Homo sapiens: one gene and its partners. The protein of the gene in region 1 interacts with the protein of each later gene in a pairwise test. Each region holds a gene or a part of one and is shown in the gene's direction. Other genes may lie near its edges.

Region 1 (3,500 bases):
CCTAGTCAATCACCTTGTTCTTGTTAAAATATTAATATTTAAAGGAGTCTTATACCTTTAAAAATGAAATTATTTAAAGTATATATCTTATTTTATATTGGCTTATTTTATTTTATAGTACAAATAATGTTTGGTTAATAGTATACATGTAATTTATATGTAAAATATATATTGGATTCTGTGGTCAGAGACTTTACTAATTTAGTGTGTAATCAAAACATTTGGAGATCACTAGATTCTGTGGTGCCTGGGATTTGTGTGGTGTTTCACTTTATGAAATGCTTTTGCAAATGTGTTCCAACTTGAACATCATCAACAGCCTTTTGATGCAGGGAAGTGTCATTATGCCCATTTTGTAGATGAGGCATTATTCTCATTTTATGGAAAGGTAACTGAAAGTCAGAATATTTAGATGACTTGCCCAGGGTCACACAGCTAGTTAATAGTGGCACCTCAGCGCCAGCACAGGTGTTACTACTAGATGGTGCTTTTCCATTTAATCCATTCATTGCCTCTACTGGTCATTCCTTTATACTGGCCATTCCTATTGTTTTGACTTCATGTCCTAATCTATTACTTGTTTTTCAGAGTTCTCAGGTACTTGCTTTTTGTGTTTTTTCTAGCGGTTTTAGTTATAGTCAATGAGAGAGACAACACAAGTAAATTAAGAAAAACTGGGAACAAAAGGATGGATACCAACGAGAAAGACAATATATTAATGATGAAAATAAAAATGGTAGTAGGTGTCTCAGAAGTCAGATAAATGCATTTGATGTGCAAAACATTTCAAAGGAACCAGAGAAATGTAGTTCAGGCAGATAGGTTGTTTGAACATTGGCCTGAGGGAAGGCTAAAGATGAATGTAGAAAATATAGTGGGTGTGTATGATATAGATATAGTTTTGTGCTATAGTAAAGTTGGCATTTATAAGCATAATGAATTAAGAATTGTGACGTTTATTTTGATCATTGTGTGTGCTTTTGATTTTAACAAAACTTTGTATAACAACATGTAGTCTTCTATTTTGATTGTTCTGCCAGTACATATAACAAAATGAACAAAATAGAGGAATTCTGTATAGGAATTAAAAGTTAAATATTACTCATCTGCTAATAGATCTATGGATAAACTAAGTTTAACATATTGAATAAAAATGATTGGGTCAGAAAAGTGACTTAGAAGTGTAGCATGGTTTCAGACGTCATTTTCTAGGTTACAATCACTGCCATAATCCAAGAACATGGAGATGTATTTAACAAAACTAAAATATAGTTTTAATAGGTTTTCATGAAAGTATGTTTTACATACAGCTTCTGTGGCCTTTTTCGTATTATAAATTCAAGGCATGGCTTGATCTTCTAGCCTAGTGGCAACACGTCTGGAAATAACTATGCATCACTAAAACTTTCATAGGGATTTTGTGTGCTTTGAAATATTGCATATATGGTTATAAAATTCCCTTAGTATTTACTGGCATATTAAACAAAAATGGCACTGACAGGCATATTATTGTCTGTGTTAATAATCTACACATGAAACACTCCCTCAGTTCAGCTGAACATAGTTCTTACCTCTAATTGTTCATTAGGCCAGTGATCTGTTGTGCTCTTAGAAGGAAAACCAAAATGGTGCAATTAAAATTTGAACCAATACCTGAAGTAGCTATACTTTTCCTTTTTTATTATTAAATGGAAAGATATTCTGAAATTTATGATAGTTTCAGTGGTTTAGAAGATGTTGGAGAATTATATTGAGCTTATCATAGTTTAAAGAACCCTGGACTGGGAGTCAAATCATTGAGATCTAGTTAACAACAGCTATGTTGTTGATGTGCCACATCTCAGTGGGCAAGTCAGTTACGCTTCTCCTAACAAATGCGAACTGGTCTAGTGTGGCTTGATCACTAATGGTTAAGCTTCTACACATAATTAGCATAAACAAATGATTTATTAAGCTTTAAAGATAGACCTCCAGTGATGTAGTCACATAATCTAGAAAAGCTGGTCAGCACTACATTAAGTTTTAGGGTATCTGGAGGAATCTTCCCAGTCAGCCCATAGAATTTTAAGCCAGTGTAGTCTGTCCACTCTGAGAAGCTGGAGCATCATTAAGGATCCCTTATCTCCATGTGAGCAGCTCTCCTCCGGGTTGCACAGCCATCCTTTATCTTCCTTCTGGTTGTGTAGTAAGTATTCATGTTCCTAAGAATGTGCAGAATGAAGAGATTCAATTTAACAGATGCCTGTTAAACTCTAACTGAATATAAGTAGAAATTCTCTTTAAAAACACACACTGGATTAAACAGTCTTGTCATTTTCTCTTTCATTTCCATCTGACTATGTCCATTGGCATGCTCTGTGTTTGCAGCTGGCCAGCTACACTCTAGAATGCCAGTGTTCCTACCAGCAGAGGTGTGTGCTTACCAAACAGCAGTTATGCTTATTTCTGAAACTTTTTATTACGTTGTGCATATTATTGGAGTTAAATAATTCCAGATTGCACAAGCTAATGAATTATGAGTGTGAAAAGAGAATCATTGTTGCTGTTAAGGCAAAGTAGAATGCAAAAGACTTGATAAAGATAAGCACAGAACAGAAATAGATATTGAATTAGACGTGGCTACAACAACTGAAAGCAAAAAAACCTGTAAAAATATGGAAGGATTATGCACTCACCTTGTTTCATACATGCCTTTAAATCCATGCTGTAACTCAAAGAAAGTGAAACTGTGTCCTTATTTATATAGTGGTGAGTAAAAAATACATAAATAAACTGCAAGCCATAGATGTTGCATTCTAGATGTGTTCATGTATCCATTTTAAATTAGAATGTTTAAAGTATGTATGGTTGTTGTGGTCACCTGCTTTAAGGTGAGTTTCTATTAACTGACCAATTATTGTTCATGATCCTACTAAGAGGGCTTCCTTATACTTGATAGTTGAACATAGTCAATCTACTTAAACCTTTGGAAAACGGTGGTGTTTGCAGCTTGGGCCTGCTTTCCATATGTATTCCTGCAACTTCCTCCAGTGGCCCCTTTACCTGTGTCTTCCCATCTTTCATGTGAGAACCATCATTTCTCCTTTAAGTTTACAGAAAAGTGTCAAATTTAAGTAAGATATGGATATGAAAAAAGTTAGAAATAAATGTGCGTGCTATATACTATAGATACTGTAATCTTATTATTTATAATAGGGAATCTATGACTCATGATTTAAGAAAATGCCCAGCTTAGACTTAGGTTTTATGTACAAAATCGATAACTTTTGCTTTCTTATTTGGCATTTTGAAACACCAGTTTGAGTGATTTCTTTAATTCTGAATAAACTAAACTAAACCTAAACTAGTAAACTAAAAACGATGATGAGTTAACTTCTATGGCTTGGAAGATATTGAAGATGTTAGAGAATTAATTGGTCTCAAGCCCTATGGGTATTAGAGTTTAAAGAACCCTATACCTGGAATCAGACTAGCTGGTCTGGTATCAGCTGTGCTCTTGA
Region 2 (3,500 bases), on another chromosome or scaffold:
ACTGAGACCCTAAGTCGTTCTTTGTTGTCTCTCTAGTGGTTTCTGACACCTCAGTGTGAAGCTGTTGTAGACATCCATAAGAAATAGCCTGCTTAGGGATTATGTGAGGGCAAGGTTTGGCTGAAGGAGAATAGAAGGTGTGGAAGGAAGCGGAAGACCAGAAGAGCATCACACTGCCTCAAGTCCCAAATTTGATTCTGCTCCTGATCCTGTGACTCAAATTGTCATTCTCTTTTACTGCTGTGGGGTGTGCTCTGGGCCCAGCTGACAGGACATTCTTTGTACTCCACGTATTTATGCTGGTGGGAGTTGTATGGCTAGTGCTTTGTGCTTTGTCTCAGAAATTGTGTGGACTAAATGTAATATGGGCAGTGAATGGGTTTCTTCTGGAAGATGTTAGGCCTGGAGGGTGGTTTGGGTTTTTACGAGTCTTTTTCTCAGATTACAGATTACGAATGGATGTTATAAAACAGGCAGTGTTGACACCATACAGTTTCTCCTAAGAAATGTACAGAGAGTTCAACCTGAGGAAGCTAATTGAAAATAAACTTTTAAAAAGAAATGTAGAAAGAGGAAATTTAAAAAGTATCTTATGAATGGGAAAGATGTAGCCATTTGAGCTTCAAAGAACTTTTGAGGGAATTCTCAAAGGACAGTACCCGTCTTTAGTAGATAAATGCTTGATATCTATTTTTCTTCTTTTACTTTTTAAAGAATTACTAAAATAATACATGGATTTATAGAAAAATCAAACCACTTAAAAATTGATCAGGTGGCTGGGCAAGGTGGCTCATGCCTGTAATCACAGCGCTTTGGGAGGCCTAGGCGGGTGGATCACCTGAAGTCAGGAGTTCGAGACCAGCCTGGCTAACACGGCGAAACCCCATCTCTATTAAAAATACAAAAATTAGCTGGCCATGGTGGCTTGAGCGTGTAGTCCCAGCTACTCGGAAGGCTGAGGCAGGAGAATCACTTGAACCTGGGAGGCGGAGGTTGCAGTGAGCCAAGATCACACCACTGAACTCCTGCCTGGGTGACAGAGTGAGACTCGGTCTCAAAAAAAAAAAAAAAAAAAAGTATCAGGTAAAAAAATGAAAGCTCCCCGCTTAATCTCTGCTCCCACTACCCAGAATAACTGCTGTTAATAGCTTAATGTAGATCCTTCTAAGTCTTCTAAGACTAAACTGTGTACTTTTTGTGTTGTAATTAACAGGAGGGTTTTTGTTTTGTTTTGTTTTTTCTTTTTTTGAGATGGAGTCTTGCTCTGTCATCCAGGCTGGAGTACAGTGGCACAATCTTGGCTCACTGCAACCTCCACCTCCTGGGTTCAAGTGATTCTCCTGCCTCAGCCTCCTGAGTAGCTGGGATTACAGGCGCCTGCCACCACACCCAGCTAATTTTTGTATTTTTAGTAGAGATGGGTTTCACCATGTTGGCCAGGCTGGTGTCGAACTCCTGACCTCAGGCGATCCACCTGCCTTGGCCTCCCAAAGTGCTGGGATTACAGGCGTGAGCCACCGTGCCTGGCCTCAGGATGGTGTTATATATACATATTCTGCATTTTTCCATCTCATATATTCATCTCTGCCTCATTTCTTTTAAATAGCAGTGTAGTCCAGGGCTGACTTACCGTCATGCATTTCGTTGTCTCTCTATGTTATTAAAAATGCTACAGGATTGAAATTCCTCATGTGCCAGTCATTTTGAAGAATGGCTGCCTAGACTTGGAATTTCTGGTGGATACCACCACATCACTGTCCAAAATGGCTATCCCAGTTCCCACAACAGTCTGAGAAAGTGCCATTTTCCCATATCGTCCCAGAATTGGATATACATCTTTTAAATTGGTGCCGCTTGGATTATTACTGAGGCTAAACCTCAATAATCATTGTCATAGCTCTTAATGTATTAAAGATGTTAACTCTTTGTCATGCAGATATTTTCCTGTTTTGTCTTACGTCTTGATTCTTGTCTTTCTGATATATAAAATTTATGTTATGATTTATTCTTTTGCTTTCATACTTAGGAAATCCTTTTTTACTCTTTTTTTTTTTTTTTTTTTTTTTTTTGAGACGGAGTCTCGCTCTGTCGCCCAGGTTGGAGTGCAATGGCGTGATCTTGGCTCACTGCAAGCTCCATCTCCCGGGTTCATTCCATTCTCCTGCCTCAGCCTCCCGAGTAGCTGGGACTACAGGCGCCCGCCACCACGCCTGGCTAATTTTTTTGTATTTGTGAGACAGGGTTTCACCATGTTAGCCAGGCTGGTCTCGATCTCCTGACCTTGTGATCCGCCCGTCTCTGCCTCCCAAAGTGCTGGGATTACAGGCGTGAGCCACCGCGCCCCGCCAGGAAATCCTTTCCTACTCTTAACAACAGATCAATAGTCATCTATATTTTCTTCCTAAAAAACCTGATGATGTATTATATTCATACATACGTATTTAATACATACAAAAGGGCCAGATGCGGTGGCTCATGCCTGTAATCCCAGCACTTTGGGAGGCTGAGGCGGGTGGATCACCTGAGGTCAAGAGTTCAAGACCAGCCTGGCCAAGATGGTGAAATCCCGTCTCTACTAAAAATACAAAAATTAGCCAGGCGTGGTGGCGGGCACCTGTAATCTCAACTACTGGGGTGACTGAGGCAGGAGAATCGCTTGAACCCAGGAGGCAGAAGTTTCGGTGAGCCAAGATCACGCCACTGCACTCCTGCCTGGGCGATAGAGTGAGGCTCTGTCTCAAAAATAAAAAATAAAAATAATAATTTTATAGTTAAGTTGCCCTGTGTTTTTCCTGTGATTAAAAAAAAAAATACCTGTTTTGTATTTAACTTTGGGGTGGGATAAGGTATAGCCCACTTAGTCAGTTGTGTCTAAGCCACTTGATGAACCAGTCAATCCAGTCTTCACCTTTAACAAATGCTGATTTCTTCAAGTGAGCAAAATATCTCTTAAACTTTTTCCTATTTTCTCTATAAAGTTGCTTTTTTCTGAATTTTTTCTTTATGAGGCTTGATGGGCAGCCCTATCAGCAGACAATCATTCATTCACCCAACAAATATTTGAGTATCTGCTTCAAGCCAGGGGCAGTGCTAAGCCCTGGAAGTGGTATCTTCTCCTTATCCGGGAGTGGGGCTACAGTGTTCATTCCAGAAGACTCAAGAAAATAGCAGATCATCACAAAAGTAGGTTTTACATAAATGAGGAGGAATCCACAGGGTTGTGTATATGTGTGTGTATTTTAAATTCTGACATAAGTTGGAGCTTTAGGGTAGACTGTGACATAAGAGTAGTTTGTTTTCCAACTCATGTAATTGCCGGCTGATTTTTGTCTTGAATTATGATAATGGTAACTTCTGTTGAAACAATTCTGTATTCATCTTAGCTTGGTTGGGATGCAATAAAAGTTTTGTACTGGTAAAAATGATAATTTTCTTCCATGATGATTTTGAAGCTTTTCTGTAACACCTGATAAAAATAGAGGGGCCAGGCATGGTGGCTC
Region 3 (3,500 bases), on another chromosome or scaffold:
ATGACATTATCGGGGTGAAATTAAAATCTGTTATTTGTAATATGAGGTACTATAACATTGTATTTTAACAATAAGCAGGAACTAAGTACTCAGTTAAGCATTTTCAACAACATCTGATAATAATAGGGATGTTACTTATCAGTAATCATGAATAGTTTTTCGCTGAGATTTTCTTGACAGTGTTCTGGATTTGAGCCAAATACTTCAAAATTATTCGTGTCCGAATCTCTTTTTTTACTTACTACCTCTTATTTAAAAAGCAGACAAAAGTCTACTTAGGTTTCAATAATTGCAAGCATCCACCAATGCTGTATTATATAAAGCTTGTATTTGGACATAGCAATACTAGAATGTCTTGTCAGCATATGAAAACAAGAACTTTTCACTTTACTTACCCAATATCTTGGATATATAGGATAATGACAGAGACTGGGATAGCAATAACCATAATATAGTTATAGTTATTCTAAATTAACCAAAGCTGTCTAATTCTTTTTTATTGGTATTTTAATAATAAATATCTCTGCTCTTTGAAAGAGGTACTAATTGTGCGTCTCTGTAATGAAAAACCGAGAGGAATTAAACTGGTTCAATAGTAACTGATTCCTGAGTACCACTGCCAGGTCTTACCCTGGCCAAAATTAGTAAAAGACTGATGTCTATATGTGGTTCAAAACTGCTTTTGTATTATCGTTGGTGAATGACCACTGAAAATATTAAAGCAGTGGTAAGATAATACAGTTGACTCTTGAACACCATGGGCGTTAGGGACATTGATTGCTCATGCAGTTGAAGATCTGTGTGTAACTTTTGACTCCTCCAAAACTTTACTCATAGCCTGCAGTTGTCTGAAGGCCTTAACAAATAACATAGTCAGCACATATTTTGCATGTTGTCTGTATTATATACTGACTGTATTCTTACCATAATCTAGAGAAAAGAAAATGTTATTAAAATCATAATGAAAATATATTTACTCTTCATTAAGTGGATCATAGTACAAGTCTTATCATTTTCATGTTGTATAGGCTGAGGAAGAGGAGGGGTTGGCCTTGCTGTCTCAGAGGTGGCAGAGGCTGAAGAAAATCCATGTACAAGTGAACCCATGCAGTTCAAACCTGTGTTGTTCAGGGTCAGCTGTAGTCTCTTAATCTTGACATTACTAAATATTTTTGTGCTGAGATTGTTCTTATTTTCAGTGAATTTAAAGTACTGAAAAATTCTAAACTTGTTTTCAGGTTACTAATAGGTAGAAATTTTTTAGTATGGATTAGTTTATAACTCATTTTAAATCCAACTTTAATTCTTCATATTTAGAGCTAGGCTACAGTTCCAATGCGGTTGGTAGATGACTCTAGACAATAACATCACTTTTGGTTTTTTATACTAAAAGTAGGGACAGTGCTGGATATATCTCAGCAATAGTAAAAAGCACTAAACTTTTATAAAGTAATTTGTCTATGTAAAGTACTTTAAGCCATGAAAGTTTACAGAAAGGCCAAGTTTTCTAGAAAGCAAATAAGTTAAAATGGTACACATACGTATAGTGTTGGAATGACTGACGAACCATACTTTTTAAATTTTAGTGAAGATGTAATTATTAGATGGCATTTTAAGCATGAGATATCAGGAAAATCATTTTTTGTTTAGTAAGTGAAAAACACTAGTGTAAATTGTGGCTGTCAGGTGAGTGGATAGGGCTAGCTCACTGCCTCTTGAGTGTTCTGAGGCATGTTTACAGATGAAAGGGGGGGTTACATTTTTAGTAGATTAAACAAAATTATAGGCTTTATTGGAGGATTTTTGTAGCCTTTGTAGTATTTTAAGGTACACTGTGTGAATGGCGAGGAAGGGAGGTTTACAGCCAGACATACTGGATCACTGGGACTCCCGTTTTTCTATACAATGCCATGGGATTGTAATTTTATGGAACAAACTTTAGGAAACTCTAGACCAGATTATTTTTAAAATTACTTCCATATATAAAATTCTATAATCCTGTGAAGAACTCAGGAAGTACTTACGATTAATTCTCCCATTTATTGTTCCGGAAACTTCAGTTTTTATAATCTTCCTAAATTGATCCTTTATGTTGATAAACAGTGTCGATATTAAGGAGCTCATTAATTTTGGAAGATCCATATCTATCCAAACTGGTAAGAGGCTTTAAGATAACAAATGCTCAGCTTTCAGGAGACGTCTAAAATGAAACTTTTAAATCATATTCCATTCTGATATTTGATCAAGAGAAAAGTTTTAGGCAGAAAAGAAGAGGTAGCTGAGCTTAAACCGTAAGAAGAAACCTAGTAAAGGTGAAGAAAGTTTCTCCAAAATAATTTCATTGACATTTAAAGAGCAGCAGTGGTGCCTATCAATAGGCAACATAAAAAATTACAGGCCGGGCACAGTGGCTCACCTGTAATCCCAGCACTTTGGGAGGTTGAGGCGGACAGATTGTTTGAGCCCACAAATTCAAGACCAGCCAGGGCAACATGGTGAGGTCTTGTCTCTACGAAAAATACAAAAATTAGCCAGGCATGGTGACGCACACCTGTAGTCCCAGCTACGTGGGAGGCTGAGGTGACAGAAGCACCTGAGCCTGGGAGGTTAAGACTGCAGTGAGCCATTATTGCATCACTGCATCCCAGCCTGGGTGACAAAGTGGGACCCTGTCTCAAAAATAATAAATAAATTTAAAAATTGCAAAATATAATACTGTTGTCTTTTTTTTAAAGTTAAGTATCATTTTGCTGCTTACTCTACAAGTTTCAGGCTCTTACAGTATACAATGACTGCTTTTTTATCTGTTTTTGTAGTGAACAAGACCTATAATCCAAAGATATTAACTAAGTTCTGACTTTGTAGATAATTGTTCATTACTTAGTAACTTGTATTATATGCTGTGACATCTTGAAAGATCTTATATTATGTGGTGTCACTTTCCTGGCTCCAATAAAAAATGATTCCCTAGGGCTCTAAAGAACAGACTTAAAGGATTGATGACACAATGTGAAGGGCAAAGCCAGAGGGGGTTGAAAAGATATAAACTGAACAAGTTCTTTCTTTAGGTAAATCTGTGGCAGGAACAGGTAAATTAGCAAAGCCAGGGAATAGTGGTGGAGGGGTGACATACAGTAAGTCTGAGCTGGGCTCTAGAAACAGAGGTCAGACAGGGCAGAGGTGAGCAATTACCTGGGAAAGCGTGTGTGGGGTTGACAGACAGGTTCTTCTCCCTCTATGCTGCCTGTCTTCATAAATTGCTCCATCAGGACTTGTTCTTGTTTGCTTCCTTTTGTGGCTGCTATGGCCATCCTGGTTTGGAAACTTTTTTCAGAAAATTACTACTACTAATATAGTCTTTATAATACATAAATACAAACTGATTTTGACTTCGCTGCTTCTAAGGGACATTGTCCCAAATCATATTTCCTCAAGGAATCCAGTTTCTATTTCCAAATACAATGTATAAGTGTGTGTATTCCCTCTATTCACTGTGACTG
Region 4 (4,230 bases), on another chromosome or scaffold:
CAAGTCCATCTCCCCCATCTGACATCTTGAAACAAAGTTTTTTTTTTCCTCTCTGGGTTCTCAGTACCAAGAACAGTGCATAGCACATAGTCATGAACCTTTGGCCTAAATCACAGTGAAATTAGTGAAAGGAAGTCTACCTTCTAGTCCCAGCACTCACACCAACTTCTCAGACACTGAAAGACCCTGGCCAAGGCACTCCTCTGAGCTTCTGGTAAATGGGGATAATGTTCCTGTCCCCTTCTTAGTTTGTGAAGATAAATTCAGAGAGAAATGGGATTGGTCCTTTGGTATGGTGGGAAGTCTAAGCACATTGAAAGTTTAAGACATTAACACTGGCCAGTGCAGTGGCTCACGCCTGTAATCCCAACACTTTGGGAGGCCGAGGTGGGTGGATCACTTGACGCCAGGAGTTCAAGACCAGCCTGGCCAACACGGTGAAACCCTGTCTCTACTAAAAATACAAAAATTAGCCAGGCATGGTGGTACAAGCCTGTAATCCCAGCTACTCGGGAGGCTGAGGCACAAGAATCCCTTGAACCTGGGAGGCGGAAGTTGCAGTGAGCTGAGATTGTGCCACTGCAGTCCAGCCTGGGTGACAGAGCTAGACTCTGTCTCAAAAAAAAAAAAAAAAAAGATGTCAACACTGATGTTATTAATGACAACTGCTGATAGTGTTGATACTAATGATGACCTGCTTAGCTGGAGGAATTCTCTTTCCTTCCTCCAATATTGCCTGGTTTTGCCCTAACTCAGCTCCATTATCTGCTGAATGATGGAAGCCAGGCCCCCTCCTCTCTAACCCCTTGTCTTATAGATTTCTTTATTATTATTACTATTATTATTATTATTTTAAAAATAGTGATGGGCTCTCACTATGTTACCCAGGGCTGATCATGAACTCCTGGGCTCAAGCGATTCTCTCGCCTGAGCCTCCCAAAGTACTGGGATTACAAGCATGAGCCACCATGCCCAGACTCATAGATTTCACATGTCCTCAAAAAGTCCTTCCAGAAGTCTGACCCACATCCTTCCTGTTGCAGCCCTGCCCCCTCCCTTCCTCATGTCTCCTCAAAGCATGATCCATAAGCACCTTGTGTGGCTTATCCTTGAGGTTGACATCCCCATTCCCACTGCTCAGAACAGGCCAAGAGGCAGAGTGGGAGATTTTCCAGAGAGAAAGAAATAGAAGCCAAGAGAGATGAGAGAGAGAGAGAGAGAGAGAGAGAGAAAGGGAAGTTCTAGTTTGGGGTGAGGGGGCAGAGAAAGAATCTGGAGGGATGAAGGTCAGGCAGCAGTAAGGGCTTCCTAACACCTAAACACAGAGTGACACAGATACCCCCCACCGCTATACCACCGCTATCTACAGCTGCGTGGCTTCCGGGGGTGGGACAATCGTCTTAAGGCTTTCCATGACGTGAGTCCTCGCCAGAACTAAGGCTGTGGGTAAGGCGACATTTCCTGCCCCCGGGGCCAGGGTGAGAGGAGAGATGATGAGTTGCTGAGTGTGCACACCTTTCCGGAACACATACACACACCCTGCTCTGGGATCCCTTGTGAGGCTGCCCTCATGGAGTTCCCCCTGGCCCAGATATGTCCCCAAGGTAAGTGTGAAGTTGAAGGATATGGGTGGGAGGGGGCACAAAGACCCCCATCCCCCTGCCCTCCCTCCTGGGCTTGAGCTCCCACTTCAGGGATGAGGGGCCCCACCCTAAGCCAGAGCTGGCAAAGCTGATTGGCAGGGTGACCACAACCCTGCCTGGGGCTCCATGCCCACTCATCCCTGAGGATAAAGGTGACAGGGTTTGTTGAGGGCTTCTCAGAGAGGAGAGAGGAGGGAGCAGGAGGATGAAGGGAGAAGGAGGCAGAAGATCCTGGACCAGAAGAAGGGCCTGCCCTGAAGTGATCTGCCTCCCTGACCATCCGAAGGCCAGCCTGACTCCCAGCCTCTCCTTCTAGGCACCTGGTGTCCCTCACAACCTCCTCTGGCAGCATTAGCCCCCCATGCCGCCTTGGCTACTTAACCTCATGCCTGAGAAACTCCCCTGCTGCCCTTCTGCGTTTTTCCTGTCGTTAAGACTGTCCCAGCCCTCCAGATCCCCTGAGCCTGGGAGGAGGGGTGGGAGGCAGAGACAGACATAGTTCCTCTCTGAGAAACCCCGGCAGCCCTCTTTGTGCTCACAGGGAGTCACGAAGCCCCCATCCCAACCTTCAGCACCTTCCAGATCACAGACATGACCCGCAGGAGCTGCCAGAACCTGGGCTACACTGCGGTGAGTGGAAACCTGGGGCGGCAGCGTGGTGCAGCTCCCTCATCTCTCCCACCCTCCCATGGGGAAGGACTTGCAGATGGACAAAGGCCACTCCAAGAGAAGGCAGGAATGATCCGGGTCTGCCAACGGGCTGGGGCACAGAGAGAGAGAACGAAAATGAGGAGTACCTCCTTCATGCGCCGAGTTGCCCACTCACTCCCTTACTGCTCCTAGGCCCTCTGGAAGCTCAGGCTGAGTCCGCAGATGACCAGGGTGCAGTGCATTGAGTCCCAGAAGCAGGCATCTGCACTCTGTGTCAGTGACCATTTGCCCAGTGCATTCCACATTCCCGTCTCAGTCCTTCTCTCCTGCCCAGTCAATAATTTTCCCTGCGAACTAGGTCAGTCCCTCATATTATGAAGTAAGCCCTCCCTCATTCTGGCCTCTAGGGTGACTTCCTGCATCATGTTTCTTCATCCTCCAGGCCAGGGAATGACTCTGTCCATCTGGAAGGCTGTGCTGCCTTTCCCGCCCCTCCTAGAGCACAGTGTGACAGCTCACTGCTGCTGGATTAAAAGCCCTCAGGACCCAGAGGGCAAAGGAAGGAGAGTCTCTGGAAGCCAGAACAGCTGGAGCTGAAGAAGGGATTTAAGTTAGACTTTAGGAAGGACTTTCTGGGCAATTGTACCCTAAAATAGACAGGAGAGGCTGGGTATGAGGAAAAGAAGGTGGCAGGTGGATCAAAGTCAGGAGAAGGCCCACTCATCATGCTGCTTCCCCCTCCTTGAACTCTTCCCTGATCCAGGCATCTCCCCAGGCCCCGGAGGCTGCCTCCAACACAGGGAATGCTGAGAGGGCAGAGGAGGTGCCTGGAGAAGGAAGCCTGTTCCTGCAGGCCGAGACCCGGGCTTGGTTCCAGAAGACCCAGGCCCACTGGCTCCTGCAGCACGGGGCAGCCCCTGCCTGGTTCCATGGCTTCATCACCCGGAGGTGAGTCATGGAGGAGGAAATTGGCCCAGACAGGGGCAGGGCAAGTCCTGGGTCTGGGTCCTGCCACCTGCCAGGAATAGATGAAGGCTCCCACTTCTACCAGTCTGGAGTAGATGGAGGCGCCCACTCCAGGCTCCCACTCCCAGAGTTTTCCTAGCCTTTCACTGAGGCATCTCTCCAGGGGAGATCATTGGAGAGGCTCCAGTCCAGCCCTCTGTGTACCTCAGCTTCCCCTCTCTAGGCCCCATTATCCTCCTGTCCCTAAGGCCTCGAATGCTGGTATTTTCCACCTCTCTCTCCCTCCAGGCTTACTCCATCTTTATCTCCCAGCCCTCTCTTCTTCCACCCTTGCAGAATCTCCCTCCTCCATTTCTCAGCCTCATTTCTCCCTAACTCTTTGTTCACCTCCTCAGTTCAGCTTTGACTTCTGAAATCTGGAAGTCCAACTACTTTCCCATCCCTGTAGCTGCAGTAGCAGCCCCTGCAGGCTGCCCTTTCAGGATGAGGCCAGGGGAGGATGCGGGGGTCTCCTGAATGGGACCCCTGGCCCCTGTCCACGCCTAATCCCTGCAGCGGGAGAGCAGCGCCCACGTGCTCTCTCTCCCCATCTCCGCCCTAGCCTTTCTCTAGCCGCTCCAGCATGCTTGCTTGGGGGTAGGGGTTCCTCGTGAGAGCCGGGGAGACAGAGGCGAGGCTGGAAGTGTCAGAGCAGGGTTCGGCCCCCTCTCTCCGTCACCCACAGGGAGGCAGAGAGGCTGCTGGAGCCCAAGCCTCAGGGGTGCTACTTGGTGCGGTTCAGCGAGAGCGCGGTGACCTTCGTGCTGACTTACAGGTGAGGGGCGAGGCCCCGCGCCGGGCGACACAAGGCGGGGCTCGGGAGGGGCGGGGCTTGGGTCTGATCCCGTGAGGAGCCGGGCTCTTAGCTCATTCCCCGGGCTGCTGAAGGTGGGGATCACGCCTCTCGCTGGTGACCCTGGCCGAGGAGCGG

The links. The genes of interacting proteins can lie anywhere in the genome.
Region 2: the proteins of ASB3 (region 1) and MECP2 interact in binary tests that used the Homo sapiens proteins (3 or more experiments, as listed by UniProt).
Region 3: the proteins of ASB3 (region 1) and NDUFV2 interact in binary tests that used the Homo sapiens proteins (3 or more experiments, as listed by UniProt).
Region 4: the proteins of ASB3 (region 1) and SH2D2A interact in binary tests that used the Homo sapiens proteins (3 or more experiments, as listed by UniProt).

The regions. Positions count from the first base shown.
Region 1 is NC_000002.12:53,671,954-53,675,453, reverse strand, and holds part of ASB3 (ankyrin repeat and SOCS box protein 3), read left to right. Parts: intron 1-3,500. UniProt on the Homo sapiens protein: Probable substrate-recognition component of a SCF-like ECS (Elongin-Cullin-SOCS-box protein) E3 ubiquitin-protein ligase complex which mediates the ubiquitination and subsequent proteasomal degradation of target proteins. Recognizes TNFRSF1B.
Region 2 is NC_000023.11:154,087,718-154,091,217, reverse strand, and holds part of MECP2 (methyl-CpG-binding protein 2), read left to right. Parts: intron 1-3,500. UniProt on the Homo sapiens protein: Chromosomal protein that binds to methylated DNA. It can bind specifically to a single methyl-CpG pair. It is not influenced by sequences flanking the methyl-CpGs.
Region 3 is NC_000018.10:9,130,199-9,133,698, forward strand, and holds part of NDUFV2 (NADH dehydrogenase [ubiquinone] flavoprotein 2, mitochondrial precursor), read left to right. Parts: intron 1-2,024; exon of another isoform or gene 2,025-2,200; intron 2,201-3,192; exon of another isoform or gene 3,193-3,312; intron 3,313-3,500.
Region 4 is NC_000001.11:156,814,049-156,818,278, reverse strand, and holds the start of SH2D2A (SH2 domain-containing protein 2A), read left to right. Parts: upstream 1-1,430; 5' UTR 1,431-1,570; coding exon 1,571-1,604; intron 1,605-1,821; exon of another isoform or gene 1,822-2,166; coding exon of another isoform or gene 2,167-2,184; coding exon 2,185-2,273; intron 2,274-2,440; coding exon of another isoform or gene 2,441-2,449; exon of another isoform or gene 2,450-2,529; intron 2,530-3,057; coding exon 3,058-3,242; intron 3,243-3,954; coding exon of another isoform or gene 3,955-3,984; coding exon 3,985-4,074; intron 4,075-4,230. UniProt on the Homo sapiens protein: Could be a T-cell-specific adapter protein involved in the control of T-cell activation. May play a role in the CD4-p56-LCK-dependent signal transduction pathway. Could also play an important role in normal and pathological angiogenesis.